Linked DNA regions of Homo sapiens: regions 1, 2, 3 and 5 are each reported to be linked to region 4. The links are microRNA targets in miRTarBase. Many come from high-throughput screens and were not tested one by one. Region 4 holds a microRNA gene; each other region holds the end of a gene's coding sequence.

What was found. The annotated mature microRNA hsa-miR-324-3p reads CCCACUGCCCCAGGUGCUGCUGG and lies in region 4 at 2,691-2,713, opposite strand. An mRNA with a match to its seed (bases 2 to 7 or 8) in the 3' UTR can be bound and repressed. Matches are read on the target gene's strand: a 7mer-m8 pairs with bases 2 to 8, a 7mer-A1 pairs with bases 2 to 7 and ends in A, and an 8mer does both.
Region 1: the mRNA of HSPA9 is a reported target of hsa-miR-324-3p. The part of its 3' UTR that is shown has no 7-base or 8-base seed match.
Region 2: the mRNA of BAHD1 is a reported target of hsa-miR-324-3p. Seed matches in the 3' UTR shown: 7mer-m8 at 1,670-1,676.
Region 3: the mRNA of RUVBL2 is a reported target of hsa-miR-324-3p. The part of its 3' UTR that is shown has no 7-base or 8-base seed match.
Region 5: the mRNA of ACOT7 is a reported target of hsa-miR-324-3p. The part of its 3' UTR that is shown has no 7-base or 8-base seed match.

The regions. Positions count from the first base shown.
Region 1 is chr5:138,552,202-138,556,339 of GRCh38, forward strand. It overlaps HSPA9 (heat shock protein family A (Hsp70) member 9), which reads right to left. Exons shown (of 17, transcript NM_004134.7): 17 at 1,555-3,913. The coding sequence ends at 3,836. Among named protein-coding and RNA genes, the nearest start is that of SNORD63B, 4.8 kb to the right of the region's middle.
Region 2 is chr15:40,465,359-40,469,500 of GRCh38, reverse strand. BAHD1 (bromo adjacent homology domain containing 1) reads right to left here. Exons shown (of 7, transcript NM_014952.5): 6 at 4,066-4,142; 7 at 1,265-3,560. The coding sequence ends at 3,371. Among named protein-coding and RNA genes, the nearest start is that of CHST14, 3.6 kb to the left of the region's middle.
Region 3 is chr19:49,015,270-49,019,411 of GRCh38, reverse strand. RUVBL2 (RuvB like AAA ATPase 2) reads right to left here. Exons shown (of 15, transcript NM_006666.3): 14 at 3,726-3,840; 15 at 3,442-3,595. The coding sequence ends at 3,570. It overlaps LHB (luteinizing hormone subunit beta), which reads left to right and starts at 2,321. Exons shown (of 3, transcript NM_000894.3): 1 at 2,321-2,345; 2 at 2,698-2,865; 3 at 3,102-3,432. The coding sequence starts at 2,331. The coding sequence ends at 3,344. It overlaps SAXO3 (stabilizer of axonemal microtubules 3), which reads left to right. Exons shown (of 5, transcript NM_001396011.1): 4 at 412-539; 5 at 1,072-1,444. The coding sequence ends at 1,444. RefSeq lists a silencer at 1,140-1,329 and enhancers at 573-1,496, 1,306-1,600.
Region 4 is chr17:7,220,618-7,224,617 of GRCh38, forward strand. It overlaps MIR324 (microRNA 324), which reads right to left and starts at 2,762; the gene lies at 2,680-2,762. It overlaps ACADVL (acyl-CoA dehydrogenase very long chain), which reads left to right. Exons shown (of 20, transcript NM_000018.4): 4 at 1-59; 5 at 149-213; 6 at 307-441; 7 at 921-1,065; 8 at 1,335-1,464; 9 at 1,560-1,685; 10 at 2,050-2,248; 11 at 2,516-2,620; 12 at 3,027-3,113; 13 at 3,196-3,258; 14 at 3,351-3,452; 15 at 3,529-3,626; 16 at 3,704-3,776; 17 at 3,863-3,935. RefSeq lists an enhancer at 1-220.
Region 5 is chr1:6,260,809-6,264,950 of GRCh38, reverse strand. It overlaps ACOT7 (acyl-CoA thioesterase 7), which reads left to right. Exons shown (of 9, transcript NM_007274.4): 9 at 256-679. The coding sequence ends at 354. GPR153 (G protein-coupled receptor 153) reads left to right here and starts at 3,853. Exons shown (of 6, transcript NM_207370.4): 1 at 3,853-4,126. RefSeq lists silencers at 3,614-3,933, 4,114-4,142.

The sequences.
Region 1 (4,138 bases), not on the chromosome of region 4:
ATCTCTACTAAAAATTCAAAACTTAGCCGGGTGTGGTGGCATGCACCTGTAATCCCAGCTACTCAGGAGGCTGAGGCAGGAAAATCGCTTGAATCCGGGAGATGGAGGCTGCAGTGAGCTGAGATCATGCCACTGCACTCCAGCCTGGGTGACAGAGAGAGACTCTGTCTCAAAACAAAAACAAAACAAAAAAACCTGGCCTTATGACTGGAGAATAGAGTTGCAATGGTATCTGAAATGGTGAAGGGTCTCTTGAATATTGGTTATTTCCAAAATTTGAATTGTTTCTTCATACCCAATCTTCTCATGCAGTTTGTAAGAACTTGCTTTTATTTCTGCTGCTCCATCTTGCTTGTAGTCACTACTATAAATGTTACGTGGATCAAAGAAATGGAATGTCTTGATTTCCCTGAGAATTGACACATTATGTACACATGTATGTAGTATTTCTACTGATAATGTATACCTCACTCAACACAAATAATCAGGCTGGGCACCGTGTCTCATGCTTGTCATCCCACCACTTTGGGAGGCTGAGGTGGGAAGATTGCTTGAGGTCAGGAGTGTGAGATCCTGTCTCTCCCCCCCTCAAAAAAAAAAAAAAAAAAAAAAAAATAGCCTGGCACGGTAGCTTGCACCTGTGGTCCCAACCACTCCATAGGCTGAGGTGAGAGGCTCACTTGAGCTCGAGAGGTGAGCCAGGTGTGGTGGTGTGCACCTGTAGTCCTAACTACTTGGGAGGCTAAGGCAGGAGGAGTGCTTGAGCCCAGGAGTTCGAGGTTGCAGTGAGCTATGAATGCACCACTGCACTATAGCCTGGGTGACAGCAAGACCCTGTCTCAAAAAACAACATAAAAAAAGGAGGCTGGGTGCGATGGATCACCTGAGGTCAGGAGCTTGAGACCAGCCTAGCCAACATGGCAAAACCCCGTGTCTACTGAAAGTACAAAAATTAGACCGGGCACAGTGACTCAAGCCTGTAATCCCAGCACTTTGGGAGGCCGAGGGGAGTGGATCACTTGAGGTCAGAAGTTCAAGACCAGCCTGGACAACGTGGTGAAATCCCGTCTCTACTAAAAATCCAAAATTAGCTGGGTGTGGTGGCAGGGTGCCTGTAATCCCAGCTACTAGGGAGGCTGAGGCAGGAGAATCGGCTTGAACCTGGGAGGTGGAGGTTGCAGTGAGCTGAGATCGCACCACTGCACTCCGGCCTGGGCGACAAGACTGTCTCAAAAAAAAAAAAAAAAAAATTAGCTGGGTGTGGTGGTGCGCACCTGTAGTACCAGCTACTCAAGAGGCTGAGGTGGGAGAATTGCTAGAACCCAGGAGGCAGAGGTTGAGGTTGCAGTGAGCTGAGATCACACCACTGCAATCCAGCCTGGGCAACAGAGCAAGACTCCATCTCAAAACAAAAACCAAAAGAACAAACAAAACACAAAAAACCAAAAACAGTAAGTTGGTGTAAGAGGGATACCGTAAGTTCTTCTTGGGACCTAAGCAAGTACTTACAATCACTAAAGGGAGGCTCTACTAAAGAATAAAACCAATCATTTCTTTTTGCCTTTTGTGATAGTTAATTTTATGTGTCAGTTTAGCCATTGATGCCATTTAACGGGTTAAACATTTGTCTCTCTCCAGAAGAGATTAGTATTGAATTGGAGATTGCTCTGCTTTGATGTGAGTGGACATCATCTAATCAGTTAAGGGCCTATATAGAACTGCCAGAGCTAAGACATCCATATTCTTCTAACCTCGGACTAGGACACCACTGTGTTCCTGGTCACTGAAATTTTACCCCAACAGCTTTCCCAGCAGTGGACTGTGGGTGGGACCTCGGTTCCATAATTGTGAGCCAGTTTCTTTCTTACAGTAAATCTTATTCTAGATATATATCCTATTGGCTGTAGGAAATCTCCATATACCTTCTTGCTATTTATGCTATTAGCTTTACTGATAGGTGACTGAAATACTGTGTCCACCCATACCCAAGCAACTTCTCCCTCCTAATAGAACTCAAATATATATTTTGCTTGGGCATTTGGCTCCTCTCTCTGATCCCAAGGATGAATCTTGACTAGCATTAAGCCAGTAGTTCTCAACTGGAGTACTTTGGAAATCCTGGAGGGCTTTTAAAGTTATCTTTAGGAGACAGTAGAGGCAGTGGGCAAGGGCCAACCAAAAATGCTAAAAGTTATTTTCCAACACACCATATAACAATCCTTCATAATCCTACAATGTTCCCATTGAGTGTTCATGTGGTTGGAAACCTGAGCCTAGAATTTTTCACGAATCCCAAGAATCTTTTACATGGGTGTTAACAAGCACTGAATCTTCCAAAAATGTTGTCTAAATCACTTCCTTCATACTTGCAAATTAAATTGATTTCTTATACTGATTTTTGGAAATACAGTAATCTCATTTCTACATATTACAAAACATTATAAAAGGAGCCATTGTGTCTGATATTCTAAGCCCATCTTGATAACAGACTCTTTTGAACATGGCATATGACATTCATCCATGAAACATAAGGGAAATGTGCTGGAAGACTTTTGGGAAATCTTAACATTGAATAAAGATGTAGTTGCCTTTCTGCTCAGGTTGTCAGCACATGATAATTATTAGAACTACATCAGAGAATTTGGGACAAGCCAGTACACTGAGGACAGAAAAGCAGAAATAGGGAAAGAAATCTGGGTTCCTTTTATTTTTGAGCCATAGAAATAGTATCTTAGGACTTATTTCTAGATGCAGTTTCTTTAATGTAAGCCAATTCTGGTTATTTCTACTTGGAGCTGAAAGCAACCTGAAAATAGCCACCTTGGTTTTCATGTTAGAGATCTAAAAACTTTCATGTTAGAGATCTAGAAACTTTCATGTTAGAGATCTAGAAACTTTCAAGATTCTAAATGTACCAAAGGTCTAAGGGGAGAAAATAAAATCCTTCAAACAAGATTTGCACATGCTGATACTGCTCATTATTTCATTATAACAGCCCTTCCAAATCTTGAATTTGCATTTTTAACCAGTGTTAGCAAATCCTGTATTTCCCTCTTTGGGAAATATGGGAAGCATGAGCCATGGCATATTCTTGAAGCTAAATCTCAGGGCATCACCCCTCACAAACAAGAGATCAAGATGCTTTCTGTATTTATTTAAAAAAAAAAAAATTCCAGAATGGGTAAGAGAACAATCATCAAGGATGTAGGTGCCAGACACAGGGCAGAAGGTAGCTAGAAAAGTATGCCTTAGGGAAGTTAAAGGTCTAGCCTCATTCCTACCTTGTTTTAATAGCTGTACCTAATATAAATAGCTAAGTTTCCCATTGTTCTAGATTCCTCTGCCCCATCTACAAACATGGCACAGCCAGCTTGACTTGCAAGGCCTCAGTTGAAGGACCCCATGTACATACAGGCCAGTACAGCAGTACTAGGCTAACTAGAAGGATCTCATCCCCATATGTGGTCTCATTTCAAGTCTATGGATGACTACCTTCATTGCTGTGTGCGAGATGGTTTCACCCCTTGAAAATATGGTCACTTCAGCATAAAATAGTTAAATCTTTATAATGATCAATTCATCCTACCTCCTTTTACATGCAGCTGAAAAATGACAGGCTAGGGACATAGAATATTGTGAACTTTATACTGTTAGAATCACTGTCCATTAAATGATCACTAGCTAATGGTCACTAAATTTACAAATTAAGGAAATTATATATAGAATACTGCAAAAACACAGTAAAAAGACTGAAGTTCGCCCATTTCTGCTCAGGAAGTCTCTTCACTCCTAAGCTTCATATGTTGTCCTTCTGGCTTCAAAATTTCTGCTATTATTACTGTTTTTCCTCCTTTTGATCTTCCTTTTGTTCCCCAGTGCCAGAACTTCCAGAGCCTTCTCGCTCAGATGCCATCTGTTAAGAAAACATTTGAGAGCCACTCAGATTTAACGTTAGAGCTAACCATTTGCTCTTTGTTGCACTCCAAGATGAGGGACCCACATATGTCCTCATCATTCATTTCTATTCCACTCCCCCTCCCCACTTTCTACCCTACTGGTGGTTTCTGGATTCCTTCCCTTTGACACTAACTCCAATGCCAAAGTAGAGTCAAGACGGCAGGAGACTATCTCCCAACTC
Region 2 (4,142 bases), not on the chromosome of region 4:
ACTGCTCCTTGCTTCCAATAATCCTAAAGGTATACATTTCTGGTGATAGGATTTTCTATTAAAATCATATTTTCCAGTAAGTATGTCCTTTAAACCAGGAGAGGAAAAAAAGGCCTTAGACCTTTAAAAATCTTTTGATAATGTGGCCACATGTGCTCCCTTCTGTGTTACAGGGTAGTTTTCTGTGTTAGCAGTCAGGGTGAGGCAGGGGGAGTCCTTGGGCCTGGTACTTATCTCCATACCAATTTCTTGTCTGTAAGATAAGGACAAGCTACCACTCGCCTCAAGGGAGTCTTGTGGACACCACACTGAAGGCAGAGCTAGAAAAATCCATGGTGGTGTCTGTGCCACCAATAAATTCTGAAAAAATGTTCCTGCCCACATGCACCATGCCTTAGCAAAATGCAGAAGTGGAGGCGGGGCGGGGGGGTGCTGTGGCTCCCAGGAACCTCTATGGCCTTAGAGCTGCCCCACCTGGAACATGGTCAACACTGAGGCTTCCAGGCTGGGACCAGGGCTGGGCTGAAGCAGGGGTCAGCTGGCCGCAGACCCTTGGCCCCATGATGTGGCCTTCCTCAGCAAGCAAGAAGCACCAGCTGCAAGACACTGAGGCCCTAGGACAGTGCTGGCCAGTTACCCAAGGTGATGAGGAGGGATGCTTTTTTTTTCTTTTCTGAGACAGGATCTCACTCTGTCACCCAGGCTGCAGTGGTATGATCACGGCTCACTGCAGCCTCGTGCTCTTGGGATCAAGCAATCCTCCTACCTTAGCCTCCTGACTGAGACTATAGGCATGCACTGACATGCCGGGCTAATTTTTAAATTTTTCGAGAGACATGGTCTATGTTGCCTAGGCTGGTCTTAAACTCCTAGGCTCAAGTAACCCTCCTGCCTCTGCCTCCCAAAGCACTGGGATTACAGGCAGGAGCCACTGCATGAGGCCAGTGATAAGAAGGTATCTTTGCCATGTACCTACTTGGGGACCAATTTCCAGGTCACTGGTCAGGTGAGGGCTGGCAACTGAAGTATTTCACACAGACCTAAGCAGGCAGCTGTGGCCACCATGAAATCAAGAAGTCAACTCCAAGTTCCCAGTCCCTCTGTCTCCTTCCCTCACTCTCTTTTCCCTCTGCTTCCCTGCCCTCTTTGCTCATTGGCCTTGGTGAGCATCCATGCCACAGGGGTTAAGAGGGACCTCTGAAATAAGAATAGTGGGTCTCTCCACACCCACACACCAAAAGATGACAGGACACACAGGAAACGATCCTTTTCTAAATCAATACAATTTCTCAAATTTATTTTTTTCTTAAAGAAGTACTTCTAATCTCTGTCAAAAGGGAGGTGAGGAAAGGTCCTTCCTCCCTTGTAAACACTGAAATACAGATCTGGGAAACCAGGATCAACACACACAAAAAGTGCATTTTACAAAATATCAACTAAAATATATTTTACATGGATTATGCTTCCATTGAAATTCTACCAGCTGCATTTTCAGGTTCGAAAAAATATTTCCACATCTAAGAGATTTCAAAAGCATTTAAGTTCGGGGCAGCCAAGACCCTACCTCCTGGGAGGAGGGCCTTCATCTCCTTTCCTGCTAGGTGAGGCTGGGCTCCTTGGCAGCAAGGGCCCAGAATGAGCAGGCTCCAAGGCTGGCTCTGCAGAGCCCCCACTGCCACTCTGCCAACCTCATTTACTGCCCCATCCTCCCAGACAGACACCTTCCTCCAAACAGCTTATTCAATATAAGGAGATCCAAGTCCCTTCCCTTCAGGTTTGGGATCAGGCTTCCCAAGCATAAATTCACCTCTGAAGCCTCCAGGCCTCACCCAAACCCAATGACCAATCAGGAGCAACTCATCTACTAAGGGACAGGGCATGGCAAGTTGGGGGAGCCCTCAGGGTTCATTTCCACCTCCCTCTGCAGCCCCTGCCCAGCTGTCCTCACCCAGTGCCACCTCCTAAGCCTGCTGGGTTCATCTGCCCTTCCTCCCTAAGGGAAGACCCAGGGCTGCAGTTCTCAGCCCCAGCCCCTGCCCCCAGGGGTATGCCCTTGTGGAAGTGCTCAGCTAGCAGGTTCCCAGCACCAGGCCCAAGCCACACTGCACTCCACTCCCTCTCCCACCATACTCCTCTTTGGTACAGATAGGAAATAACCAGGCTGCTCCAGCCCCCTCACAGAGTCTCAGGGCCAGGGCCAAGGCCTAGTCTCCACAAGGACAACAGGGGACTGAGCCTGTTAGTCTACTCTGGGGAGCAGCATGAGGTGAGAACAGGGCCTCTGGGCAACAGGAACAAACTGAAAATGCAAGTCCTTAGCTCCTAGAGCAAGTGGCTGCAGCTCAGCAGGTCCGTGGACTGATACAGTGTTGATTCTTGCTAGGATGTAAATTAGTGCAATCTACAAAAGACTAGGGAAAGGGTGGCAGGGCAAGGGGAGCCACAGCACTCCTTTGGTTTGATTTCAGGTGGGTGTGGCTTGAAGAATCACGTGTGAAGTTCTGCAAGAGGTTTCCTGGAACCTCCATGTGTAAGGCAAGAGGAAAAATCTTCAACAAATCAGGTAGCAATTTTCCTTGCCCCCTGCCCCCAACCCTCTCCCAGCACCCATCTTCCCTCCCAGATATGACAAACCCCACAATCATCAGTTAACTTTCTGGGAAGCCAGACCCGCTGGGTGGCCGTCTCTGGGAGGTGGACAGGAGACTCCCACAAGTGGGCCACACCCATGACTGTGAGAGGTGGGTCAACTTGTCCCAGCACCAGTTGCTACTGCAGGGCAAAGGAGGAAAGCCAGAGAAAAGGCCTCAAGTCTAGGAAGAGGAAGTCAATGCTCTGGAAGCCAGACTCTGGCTCTCTATGCCTCAAAGGAACAAGCTCAGAGCTGTGCTGGGATCTAGGAAAGCCTGGTCCCAGGCTGAAGGGGAAGCGGCGGGTCACAGTGGGTGAGGTAAAGCTGGCCCCCACTCCCCCTTTGAGGGCAAGGGGGAGGCTACAGAAGGGCCTGTTGGGTCTGGTTCCTGAAAGACCTTGCCCCTCCTTCCCGCCCCCACCCTCCTAGGGCCCCATTTCCCTCAGGCTTGGCCCAGCCTCAGAGAAGACTACTTTTCGGAAATCTCCACCCAGGGGAACCACAGAAGGTACCTTGGGCCAAGCTGAGAGTTCTGATGCTTTTCTTATACCCTGGCCTCCCCAGCTCCCTCCCCTGGAGCCCAGAACCCACAGGGGCCCCTGCCCTCCCCCCCAAGAAAACCACAGGCCAGCAAACTTAGGCCTCTGTGGCCCCCTAACCAAGTGCTGTGCTTCAAGCAGTGCCCCCTACCCCGAGCCCCACTTGCCCATGGGTAGCCCCAGCATGGGCATGAGGAGGCTACTGGGGGTTCTTAAGGATGCGCCCGTGGCGGAAGTCATAGACATGGCGGCAAAGGAACACCAGCTCAGGGTCCGTGTCCTCTGGCACTGTGCGGTGGGGTGGGGTGGAATAGTCTGCAGAGGGGGGAACCAGTGCTGTCTTTCGGCTGGGGAGGCCTTCACCTCGGCGCTTGGCCATGGCACAGAACCTGTAGAGAGATACCATTCACTGTCTTTACTCCAGCCACTTTTGCAGGAAGACCAATTCCTTCCCTACCCTACCCTACCCGACCCAGAGAGCTAGGCTATCCTAGCTCCCCAAGGGGTGGTACTGTCTCCACCCATCCCAGGGATGATGTCTGCTCTGCCAACCACCAGGCTATCTTCTCTGTCACTGGAGAACCACACTTGCCAGGGCCTCTCTCCATTTGCCTGCCAATTCGCCTAAATTTTTTCCAAGAGCAGTAATGTTACCCCCCAACTCTGCTCCAACCATTCTACCTCAGTGTGGCAACACAATTTTTCTTCTTTCTTCCAAAAAATATCAGATGGTAGAGGCAAGCAATAGGGAAGTAAGTTCTGGGAGATTAGGCTCAGTGAGTAAGATCAGGTAGAGAGCAGAATGAGATCCTCTCGGGGAATTCCAAGCAGCCCCAAATATGCCTGGGGAGCCTGAGGGAAGAGGCCAGCCAGAGGGTGCAGGGAACCACCTACCTGCAGTACTCGGCAAAAGTCAGCACATAGCACTTCTCCTCAATGCAGGCCACACTGTTCTGGTCCTGATGTCGCGA
Region 3 (4,142 bases), not on the chromosome of region 4:
AGGAGACTAGAATATTCTGAGACGGGGTCAGGTGGGAGTTGGGAGAGGTAACTTGGAGTTGCTGCCCAAGATGCAGCTCAGCTCCAGTGGCCACACCAAGACGGTTTAAGACAGAGCGGAACCAGGGAGGTTGTTTTTGGTGGCTGGGGGCTTGGGTTTGAGTTCCTTGAACAGCAGAAGGTGCTTGGATTTAGGGAGGTGAGGCTGGGAAGGGTTCGGGTATGAGAAAGGAAGCTGAAGTTCCCTGGCGTGGGTGGCAGGAAGGGCTCTAACCCTGGGGCGGGGTGTGAGGGCCGTGGCCGTCATGGCTGTCGAGGCCGAAGGAGAGGGATTCTGAACTCGGGACCCAGGGCTTGGGATGGGGTATGAAATCTATGTCTTGGGTATGCCTCCTCCCCCAATCTTGCTCAGGCTCTAATTGCCTGGACGAAGAACCCCGAGCTGTCTGGCCGGCCTTTCACAGTATCCGACCGGGGCGTCCTGGACCGCCGCCAGCTCTATCTGACCACCTCGGCGCGGGACTTTCGGTTCTATCCCAAGTAAGCCGGGCTCTCGCTCGGCACCGCCTCCTGCACAGCCCCCGCCGTGGCCGGTGCACGCCGAGCCCCTGGGCTGGCTCCCATTCCCTGAGCCGGTGGTCTCAGCCTCGACTTCTGTAGCAGCAAGAACCAAAGTTCAGGCCTCAGCCCCTCCCTTTTTTTTTTAAGCACCCAGGAGTCCTTAGTGTCACCTCTCAGGAACCGCGGTAGGGACAGGAAGCCTGCACAGCGGCTCGAGGGGATTCCGGATCTGAGGGCAGGGCCTCCTTCGGTACTTGAGCCCCCAGATACTCCTTCCCAAGGAAGCGAAAGTCCCCTTTTACTTCCCTAGGATGCGAAAGCTCAGTTTCCAGGACGTTAAGTACCTCGAGGACCCAGGAACGCAGGCAACGCGTGCCGGGTCGCGTCCTTCCTAAGGGGTGCTCGCCTGGAAATGCAGGAGTTTGAATGTGCAGACTCCTTAGATCCCGAGGTCTGAAACTCGTCCCCAAGGATCCAGCTGTATCCTCACCATCCCGCCCTGCTCCCACAGGACGGAGCTGTCCGGATACCCCCGCAAGGACTCCCTGACCTACTGGAGCTTCGAAGAGACGCCCCAGGTCTGGAGCCACGGCCCGCAGCGGCCGCCCTGTCCGCGCTCCTCCCGGCCGCCCCGACCACCGCGGGTCCGCGTGCCGCGCGTCAGCCCGGTGACCTCGGCCATGCCGCACCGGGGAGCCCTGTCTCTGGCTCAGGAGTCCTACAGCCCCCTGCTGCACCCGCTCCGGCGGCTCGACCGCTTCTGCCCGCTGGAGGCGCCCTGGGGCGGCCCGCACTGGAAGCCCCTGCGGGGCATCTACAGCGTGCCGAAAGCCTACAGTACCGAGAACTCCAGCTATGGCAGCTTGAAGCCGGCGCTGGTGTGAGCCGTCAGGGCCAGCCCCACCCCAGACCCGCCCCCAGGGCCGCGCTGCCGAGCGGAGCTCGGGACCTCCGCTCACTAGGAAGGGTTCCGGACCCAGCCTGAGTCGCACTCATTACGTCTATTGGCAACGTGGGGGCGGGACTAGCCCAGACACCCACTCAGCTGCGGCATCACGGAGAGGGGACTAAGTCCAGATAATGTCCTTGCAGGCTGTGGCCCCGGGGGCAAGACACGCACCCTGCGGGCGTATTAAATAATGAGTTAAATCACCTGAACCACACCCACTTCCGGGGACGCTCCGGGCATCCTGGCTTGAGGGTAGGGTGGGCGGAGGTCCCTAAGGGAGAGGTGGGGCTCGGGCTTAATCCCTCCTTGGGGGCATCTGGGTCAAGTGGCTTCCCTGGCAGCACAGTCACGGGGAGACCCTCTCTCACTGGGCAGAAGCTAAGTCCGAAGCAGCGCCCCTCCTGTTAGGTTGGACTGTGGTGCAGGAAAGCCTCAAGTGGAGGGTTGAGGCTTCAGTCCAGCACCTTTCTCGGGTCATGGCCTCCTCCTGGCTCCCAAGACCCCACAATTGGCAGAGGCAGGCCTTCCTACACCCTACTCCCTGTGCCTCCAGGCTCGACTAGTCCCTAGCACTCGACAACTGGGTCTCTGAGGTCACTTCACCGTGGTCTCTGCCTCACCTCTGGCGCTAGACCACTGAGGGGAGAGGGCTGGGGCGCTCTGCTGAGCCACTCCTGCGCCTCCCTGGCCATGTGCACCTCTCGCCCCCGGGGGGATTAGTGTCCAGGTTACCCCAGCATCCTATCACCTCCTGGTGGCCTTGCCGCCCCCACAACCCCGAGGTATATAGCCAGATACACGAGGCAGGGGATGCACCAAGGATGGAGATGCTCCAGGTAAGACTACAGGGCCCCTGGGCACCTTCCACCTCCTTCCAGGCCATCACTGGCATGAGAAGGGGCAGACCCGTGTGAGCTGTGGAAGGAGGCCTCTTTCTGGAGGGGCATGACCCCCAGTAAGCTTCAGGTGGGGCAGTTCCTGAGGGTGGGGATCTGAAATGTTGGGGCATCTCAGGTCCTCTGGGCTGTGGGGTGGGCTCTGAAAGGCAGGTGTCCGGGTGGTGGGTCCTGAATAGGAGATGCCGGGAAGGGTCTCTGGGTCTTTGTGGGTGGTGTACCACGCGGGATGGGAAGGCCAGGACTCGGGGCTGCGGTCTCAGACCTGGGTGAAGCAGTGTCCTTGTCCCAGGGGCTGCTGCTGTTGCTGCTGCTGAGCATGGGCGGGGCATGGGCATCCAGGGAGCCGCTTCGGCCATGGTGCCACCCCATCAATGCCATCCTGGCTGTCGAGAAGGAGGGCTGCCCAGTGTGCATCACCGTCAACACCACCATCTGTGCCGGCTACTGCCCCACCATGGTGAGCTGCCTGGGGCCAGGGGCAGATGCTGCCACCTCAGGGCCAGACCCACAGAGGCAGCGGGGGAGGAAGGGTGGTCTGCCTCTCTGGCCTGCGGTTGGGGAATGGGGTGTGGGAAGGCAGGAACAGAGGGCTTCCTGGGCTCCTGAGTCCAGGACCTGTGGGGTCAGCTTGGGAGCTCAGCTGAGGCGCTGGCCTCAGGCACATGCTCATTCCCCCACTCACACGGCCTCCAGATGCGCGTGCTGCAGGCGGTCCTGCCGCCCCTGCCTCAGGTGGTGTGCACCTACCGTGATGTGCGCTTCGAGTCCATCCGGCTCCCTGGCTGCCCGCGTGGTGTGGACCCCGTGGTCTCCTTCCCTGTGGCTCTCAGCTGTCGCTGTGGACCCTGCCGCCGCAGCACCTCTGACTGTGGGGGTCCCAAAGACCACCCCTTGACCTGTGACCACCCCCAACTCTCAGGCCTCCTCTTCCTCTAAAGACCCTCCCCGCAGCCTTCCAAGTCCATCCCGACTCCTGGAGCCCTGACACCCCGATCCTCCCACAATAAAGGCTTCTCAATCCGCACTCTGGAGGTGTCTTTCTGTGGGCTCAGGGCAACCACACATACACAGGGTGGGTGCAGCTTCCCAACCATTTTATACAGAGTCACAGTGTCAGAACTCTGGTGGAAAACAGGGTGGGGTCGGGGGATGACATCCAACTCAGGAGGTGTCCATGGTCTCGCCTTCTGTGGGGAGAAGGAAGGCCACATGGTCAGTGTCGCCCAGGTGGCAGGGCCTGAGCCTTCTACGCCGAGCTCCCTCTTCCTCCCTCTGAGGTTGGCTCTGGCAGTGCAGGTGCGGGGTGGGGATTCTTACTGAGTTCGTTGAAGAGGAAGGCGTCCTGGTACTCCTTCATGTACTGCGTGGAGCGGGACTCGTCCAGGAAGAGTGAGTAGACCCGCTTGATGTCATCCACCTGCACTTCTGTACCCTGGAGGGGGAGGGCGAGTCCTCAGTTGGGCCCCTCTCCGTGAGGCTCAAGGCACAGACCCCAGCGTATGCCACCTCCATGCTCTAGGCAGCAGAGTGTGGCATGTGAGGGGAGGGCATTCTGGGCCAGATTGCCTGGGTTCAAATCCTGCCTGGCCATCTCCTTGTTGTGGGCCCAGCCTCTTCATTCCTCAGTTTCTTTATCTGTAAGGTGGACCTAACAGCATCTACTTAAGTCAAGAGAGATTTACTGATACCTACTATAGGCCAGGCTGGATGATACAGAAGCCAACCTGAGGGATG
Region 4 (4,000 bases):
TGCTGTGGGAATGTTCAAAGGCCAGCTCACCACAGATCAGGTGTTCCCATACCCGTCCGGTAAGGGAAGGGATAATCAGAGCTGGGTGGGGCCAGGGTGGTTTCCCCTGCCAGCCTGGCCTGACCAGCCTGTCCCCCACCCTCTGCAGTGCTCAACGAAGAGCAGACACAGTTTCTTAAAGAGCTGGTGGAGCCTGTGTCCCGTTTCTTCGAGGTAAGGAATGACTCGGGGCTTGGTCCCTGGTGAGGTGTTTGGAGATGTTAAGCTCAAAAGGAGCCTGGATGTGGGATCCTGTGCCTTCCCCAGGAAGTGAACGATCCCGCCAAGAATGACGCTCTGGAGATGGTGGAGGAGACCACTTGGCAGGGCCTCAAGGAGCTGGGGGCCTTTGGTCTGCAAGTGCCCAGTGAGCTGGGTGGTGTGGGCCTTTGCAACACCCAGGTGAGGGCGCCCTATCGCCACATCCCAGTATGCCATACCCCAGCTTGGCAGACTCAGCTCTTTTGCCATAGACCTAGAGACTAGGGCTAAGGTCTCTTCTAAGCACCTGCCCTGGGTGCCTGTGGGATGGATGTTAACTGTCCAAACATAACACAATTTACATGCAGTCCCCTAGGCCTGAGCCATGGGCCTCACCCTGGTTCCCAAGTCCTTACAAATCTCTAAGTTGGGGATTGCCTAACAATAGACTGACTAGTAGCAAGTCACCCTCCTACCTAGACCTAAGACAGACCAGCATTCTCTGCTGTGCCCTTTGCACACCCCACTTCTTTTCTACACACTGGGGATGGCCCAGGTCAGGCACTGCCCTAGGTCAGGAACTGCCCTAGGTCAGGAACTGCCCTGTTGCCCACACTCTCCTGTTAAGGTCAGGTCCCCCTGCAGCCAGTGACAACCCCAGATTCCTGCTTCCCCTCCAGTACGCCCGTTTGGTGGAGATCGTGGGCATGCATGACCTTGGCGTGGGCATTACCCTGGGGGCCCATCAGAGCATCGGTTTCAAAGGCATCCTGCTCTTTGGCACAAAGGCCCAGAAAGAAAAATACCTCCCCAAGCTGGCATCTGGTGAGGCAACCCTAGGAGAGCCAGGGATTGGGGGGCACACTGGGCTTGGCACAGATTAGGCCAGTTGGCACTTAGATTATCAGATGGCTGAGCATTTCAGTTGGGGGAAGGTTTTGGGGAGGCATCACAGTGTGCTGGTTGGGACATGCAAAAGAACTGGATACTCCCAGGTGTTAAGGGGGAACTGCCTGCTGGAGGGATGGGGAAGTGGGCCGAGGGGACTTTGAAGCTCATCAGAACTTGGGGTAAAGTAGCTCTCTCCCCAACAGGGGAGACTGTGGCCGCTTTCTGTCTAACCGAGCCCTCAAGCGGGTCAGATGCAGCCTCCATCCGAACCTCTGCTGTGCCCAGCCCCTGTGGAAAATACTATACCCTCAATGGAAGCAAGCTTTGGATCAGGCAACCTGCCTCCCATTTCTCCCCTTCTCCTCCGCCCAATTCCAGGCCCCACTGCTCCCCGTCCTCCACGCCCTGAATATCCCATTCTTCCACAGTAATGGGGGCCTAGCAGACATCTTCACGGTCTTTGCCAAGACACCAGTTACAGATCCAGCCACAGGAGCCGTGAAGGAGAAGATCACAGCTTTTGTGGTGGAGAGGGGCTTCGGGGGCATTACCCAGTGAGTGAATTTGGGTTGGGGGAGCTTAGGACTGAGGGGCAGGACTGGGCTCCTGGGCAGATGGCTGTTGCAAGTCACCCTGGGGACGTGTGCAAAAGCCAAAGCAGGTGGACTGAATGTGGCCTTTGGGACTAATATGTATGCAACTGAGCTAAAGTTTTGGCTCCAGCAACCAAGTCCAACACAAAATAGGACATAGCCAGGCCTCCTTAGCCCTCAGGGCCTGAGGGGAAGTGGTGGCTGTAGCCTCTAATAGTCTAGTGGTCGTCATTCCTCCCTGGTGCATAAGGAGCGAAGGAGCAGTTTTTCCCCCAGTGACAACCTGTTGAACACACCTCTGCTTTCCCACACTGCCCTGACACAGTGGGCCCCCTGAGAAGAAGATGGGCATCAAGGCTTCAAACACAGCAGAGGTGTTCTTTGATGGAGTACGGGTGCCATCGGAGAACGTGCTGGGTGAGGTTGGGAGTGGCTTCAAGGTTGCCATGCACATCCTCAACAATGGAAGGTTTGGCATGGCTGCGGCCCTGGCAGGTACCATGAGAGGCATCATTGCTAAGGCGGTGAGTACCCTGCCCGAGTCCCTAGGTAACCCAAACAGAAGTCTCACTGTCCCCCTTGCCATGTGTCCCTGATCACTTGCAGGCACTCCCTACACTAGAAACTCCTCCCCTACCAGCAGCCCGACTTGCTAGCTTAGGTCTCCATCCAGCGTAGACTGAACTCTGGTTGTATGCAAAACCCATCCCTCTGGCGCAAGCCCAGCCCCTCTCCTAGGGAGACTGCAGAACCACACTGAACCACAGCGGGATGTGTGGACCCTCTTCCAGGTAGATCATGCCACTAATCGTACCCAGTTTGGGGAGAAAATTCACAACTTTGGGCTGATCCAGGAGAAGCTGGCACGGATGGTTATGCTGCAGTATGTAACTGAGGTGAGGGCCTCCCAAGCCCCTCTCCCTGGAGCCCTGGGGCTTTCTTCCCAGTCGGGTCAGACTACAACCCCCAGCAGCACCTGGGGCAGTGGGTCTCCAGCTTTACACCAATGCCCTAGGGGATGCGGGGAGGCATAGTCAGCTCAGCTTCTGCGAAGAGAGACAGCAATGATGTTCTGCTCAGGTGCCTGCCAGCAGTACCAGAAGTTAATTCTACCTCATCCCTTACATCCACCCCTTTTAAGAAAACAAATACCTGGAAGCACCTGATGAACTGACCCAGAACAAGTATCTGCCTGACCTGACAAGCTAGGTCAGCCCTTATCTTGGAGATCTGGGTGATGAGGCCAAGTCTGACAAAGCCCTTTGCAATTTTCCTTCCCATGTCCCAACTATGCAACCTCAGTCCATGGCTTACATGGTGAGTGCTAACATGGACCAGGGAGCCACGGACTTCCAGATAGAGGCCGCCATCAGCAAAATCTTTGGCTCGGTGAGGTCCCAGGCATGCTGGGAGGGAGTCCAGTTTGGGTGCTCAGCTCCCAAAACCAGTCTCATCTGTTCTTTGTCCCTAGGAGGCAGCCTGGAAGGTGACAGATGAATGCATCCAAATCATGGGGGGTATGGGCTTCATGAAGGTACAGGACGGTCTTCTGCAGAGCCTCGGCTGGGCCAGGGGTGGGTAGGCACATCTCAGCACGGGCATATAATTTGTGTGGCCCTGTGCTAGGAACCTGGAGTAGAGCGTGTGCTCCGAGATCTTCGCATCTTCCGGATCTTTGAGGGGACAAATGACATTCTTCGGCTGTTTGTGGCTCTGCAGGGCTGTATGGTAAGACAGAGAATTGGGTGGGGGTAGAGGTGGGGAGGACAGTGAGTCCTGACTGCTGGACCCTCTTCCCCCATAGGACAAAGGAAAGGAGCTCTCTGGGCTTGGCAGTGCTCTAAAGAATCCCTTTGGGAATGCTGGCCTCCTGCTAGGAGAGGCAGGCAAACAGCTGAGGCGGTAGGCTTAGGGCCAGAGCCAGGGGAGGGCAGGGTGGTGTATGGCAACTAACCAGTCATTCTCCCTCTTCCTCTCAGGCGGGCAGGGCTGGGCAGCGGCCTGAGTCTCAGCGGACTTGTCCACCCGGAGTTGAGTCGGAGTGGCGAGCTGGTAAGTGGCCAGGGGTCCAGGAGAGCCTGCATCAGGGACTGCAGCCGATGGCCCCTCTGAGCCCCGCACTGTCCCCATCTCTTAAGGCAGTACGGGCTCTGGAGCAGTTTGCCACTGTGGTGGAGGCCAAGCTGATAAAACACAAGAAGGGGATTGTCAGTAAGTGAGCTCTACACCATTCCGCCCCTCCCTTTCCTCTCCTTGAGACTAATGCCCCCACCCCC
Region 5 (4,142 bases), not on the chromosome of region 4:
TGCGGCCCCTCAAAGCATCTTGGCTGAACATACCCAGCCCAGTCAATAGGCCCATCAGCGAGGTGGGACATGAGCCCCATGCCTGGGCTACCCGGCAGTCCCAGGAGGCCAGCGGGGCCGAGGCGTGGTACTCAGCATGCACCAGGGGTGGGGCAGATCCCACGGGTGGGGGGCAGGGCCCCAGGCCAGGTCACAAGGCCACGGCACTGGTTCTGCAGTGACCCTAACCTGCCTGTCTCTGTGTGTGGTCCACAGCCCGAGACCGAGGACGAGAAGAAGCGCTTTGAGGAAGGCAAAGGGCGGTACCTGCAGATGAAGGCGAAGCGACAGGGCCACGCGGAGCCTCAGCCCTAGACTCCCTCCTCCTGCCACTGGTGCCTCGAGTAGCCATGGCAACGGGCCCAGTGTCCAGTCACTTAGAAGTTCCCCCCTTGGCCAAAAACCCAATTCACATTGAGAGCTGGTGTTGTCTGAAGTTTTCGTATCACAGTGTTAACCTGTACTCTCTCCTGCAAACCTACACACCAAAGCTTTATTTATATCATTCCAGTATCAATGCTACACAGTGTTGTCCCGAGCGCCGGGAGGCGTTGGGCAGAAACCCTCGGGAATGCTTCCGAGCACGCTGTAGGGTATGGGAAGAACCCAGCACCACTAATAAAGCTGCTGCTTGGCTGGACCCACGTGTCCTGGGTGGTCATTTGTCTTGGGGGGGCTGCTTTCCCAGGGGGTGTGGGACATTGGGGCTCCCGTGGACAGTCTCAGCCCTCCCAGCACCAGCACCTGCATGTACCCTAGAACCTCAGGCACAGCCACACCGATTGGTGTCCGGCTGGTGACTTGCTGGCTATGAATGCCCATTTCCCGTGGGTCCCTGGTTTGGTGTCCTGGCCCCAGACACCCTGGCTCCCTGGACCTCATAGGCAGCCCAGATGCTGGGAGGATGTGGGCTCAGGGCCACGCTGCCTGGTGGGAGTGCCAGCACCCCACAACCCCCCTGTCTGGCTTGCAGAGGATGCCGGCTCTGAGCCTGTGTGGCTTTCCTATGAACAGGGTGGGGCTGCTGGGAAAGACTCAGCGAGGTGATGGTGTGGGAAGAGCCAAATGTGGCCTGGCTCAGCGTGTGGGAGCCCCACCCTGACCCAGCCTCTTGCTAGAAACTGCCTAGACACCCCAAAATCCTGTCTGAAGGAGCCCCCCAGCTGGCGCCAGGACTCTGTGCCTGACGTGGAAACTCCCCCAGCCACTCAGGCAGGAGTCTGCTGGGATGGCTTATAGGGCAGGGGTCTGAGGGACAGCACGAATGTGTGTCAGTGCCGTTGGTGTGAAGCTGTGGGCATACGTGTCACTGACATATCTGTGCATGTGCGTGTGCATCTGTCTGCATATCTGTGAGCACGTGTGTGGTGAGGGTATCGGTGTAGCAGGGTTGATCTGTGCATCTGGCCCAGCCAAGGCCACTACAGGGACCAGGACCCCACCTGCATCCATGGCTGAAAAGGAGGCCCTCCAATCAAGCACACCCAGAAGTGGCATCTGGGAGAATGTTCCCAATTCAGTCTGTCCCTGAAGCCCCAACATCTGTCCTGCCGCCTGGAGAAGACTGGCCCGTCAACAGCTGCGGCCTCGCACAAGGCTCCCTCTGGCCCCTGGAGAGCGAGGACTCGGCTCCAGATGTGCAGAAACACCAGCCAAGAGCTTGGGAATCTGTCCCGGGCCCCAGTCACGGCTGACGGGGTTATTTCCTGTCTGGGAGGGGGTTGGAGGTGGGAGGGACAAGCTCAGCCACATGAAGCTTCTGCCACGCCACCATGCCCCTTGGCCCCCCGGGGCTGGCCTCAGCCAGCCTCGGCCCCCAGCTCCACCCATGACCCATGCCAGAATGGTGCCCTGGGTTCAGAGCAATGAGGAGGCCACCCTTCCCAGCTAGCAGAAGGCCCAGGGCTGGCCACAGCAGTGCCTGAGCCCAGGGGCTCACTGAGGGGACCAGTTCCCCAAAGCACCCACACCCTTCACTTGAAGTTGGGCCCCGCATCAGACTCCCTAGTTCAGTCCTGGCTCAGCCACTCATCCGTGTGGCTTTGGGCAAACCAGGCACCTGAAAACCGCCTCCCAGGGGCACCGGGCACTTTGCAGCAGAACCCAGCACAGCACGAAATAAGCCAGGGCCCCGGGGCGGCCATCAGAGGCCATCTCCCACCTGCCCTAGAGCCAGCTGAGGCCGGGCAGAGGCACTGGTCCAGGCAGTGGGTCAGCTGGGCTGGCAGAGGGGAGCCAGGCCCAGACAGAGGCATGGCTCTCCATGGCTGTGTGTGCAATCTTAACCGTGGTGTTTCTAAGCGGCATGGCTCTCGGTGGCCATGTAATTAAGTGTGGCGTTTCTACCGTTTCACCCCGAGTCACAGGCGAGACACTTAGAAACACCACCCTTGATTACAGCTGCCCTGTGCCAGCCTCCCACTGCTGGTGGCCTATTTATAACCAGGACCACCTGGAGGGGGAGCCAACCTGTCCACAGAGGGCTCACTGGGGACACTGAGGGCCCTGGCTGCCCGAGAAACCACAGGGAGTATAGGTGTGCATGGCCCCAGATTCCCCCTTGCTCAGCCCCACACGTTATTGCGGGGCCTTTCTCTACAGACACTCCTCTTTTTGTCTCATGGGACGGACCCTAAGACCCATCCTGGGCCCCCTAAAAGCTGCTCAGGGACCTGGGGTGTGGGGACGGTTTAGGCAGGTGCAGGCTGTGGAGCAGCCCTGCCCGGACTGGGCAAGCTCCAAGCATCCGTTTTGGCTGCAATTGGTTTGGGTCTCCTCCTGGTCGGGTGCCTAGTTTCCTCCAGACACAGGGGTGCCTAGTCATGGATGTGTCCCAGAGGCACGGAAGGACACTATGCCAGGCAGCCCCAGAGGCCTTGTGCCCATTGTGTGTGTGGTCAGGTGCTTTCTAGAAAAGACAGGCACGATCCTCAGGAGGCGTCCTCTCCAGGGCCCCCATCAAGAAGCAGGAGGCTTTCCGCCTGCATGGGGCCAGCTGAGGCTGTCAGTCTGTGGGTGACAGCCTGTGCTCTATGAGGAGTGGTGATAGCATGAGGGCTTGGGAGGGAGGGGCGGAGGGGCGGGAAGAATGGGAGGAGGGGAGGAGGGGAGTAGGAGAAGGCTTCAGGCGCTGGGCTGCAGACCCTGGCCTCTCCCGGCTGGGCGGTGGTGCTCAGAGTTTCAGAGAGAACAATTTCTGAGCCTGTGGGGGTGGCGGGGACCACTCGGCAGCCCGGTGGCCCGTGCACTTTATTCCCTCAGTGGACCCCCCAGGCCCGGGGAGCAGCGTGAATCCGTAACTGGCCCAACCTTGCCCCTCGCTGCCCCTGCTTCAGACTGGATTCCCGGTTCCTAGAAGCCGCTGGCCATGCGTCCCTTGTCCTCTCCACGCCCCGCCCCGATTGTTCATCTTAGATGCGGCTTCCTCCAGGAAGGTCTCCCTGAGCCCCAGCCCTGGCCCCAGGTTCTCAGTGTCCATTCCTGCCCCAGCTCCCTCTGGCCCCCGGGCCCCCAGAGCTCCGGGCCTGGGTCTTGCCCCGGCGTCCGAAGGCGGCGTCCGGAGTGTGCACCGAGCCGAGCTGGGAGCCAGGGGCGCGGCGCTGTCAGGAGGCGCCACCAGCCCAGGGAGGCTCGGGCCGGCCGCGGGCGGACGCGGGGACACGGGTGGGCTGCGTACGGACGGACTGACGGAAGGACGGACGGGCTGACAGACCGACAGACGGCCGCGCCTCTGAGCGGGCGGGGGCGGGGCGGGCCGAGGGGCGGTGCGGAGGCCCCGGCGGAGACATGCGCCCTGCTCCGCCCCCCGCCCCCGGCCGCCCGGCGCAGCAGCGGAGCGGCGGGAGCTGAGCGAAGCGCGGCGGCGGCGGCGGCGCCTAGGGGAGGGAGGGGCGGCGGGGCCGAGCCCACCTAGCGGAGCGCGCCGGCCGCCGGTGGCCGCCGCCAGCATGCCCCGGCCCGCGGGCCGCTCCGCCGCCAGCCACCCCCGCGGCCCTCGGCGGCCTGCGCTCGGCCCGGGGGCGCGGGAACCGCAGCCGGAGCCGGAGGCGGGAGCAGCGAGCCGGAGCCCCGGGCGCTCGAATGCAGGGTGAGCGTCGCCGCCC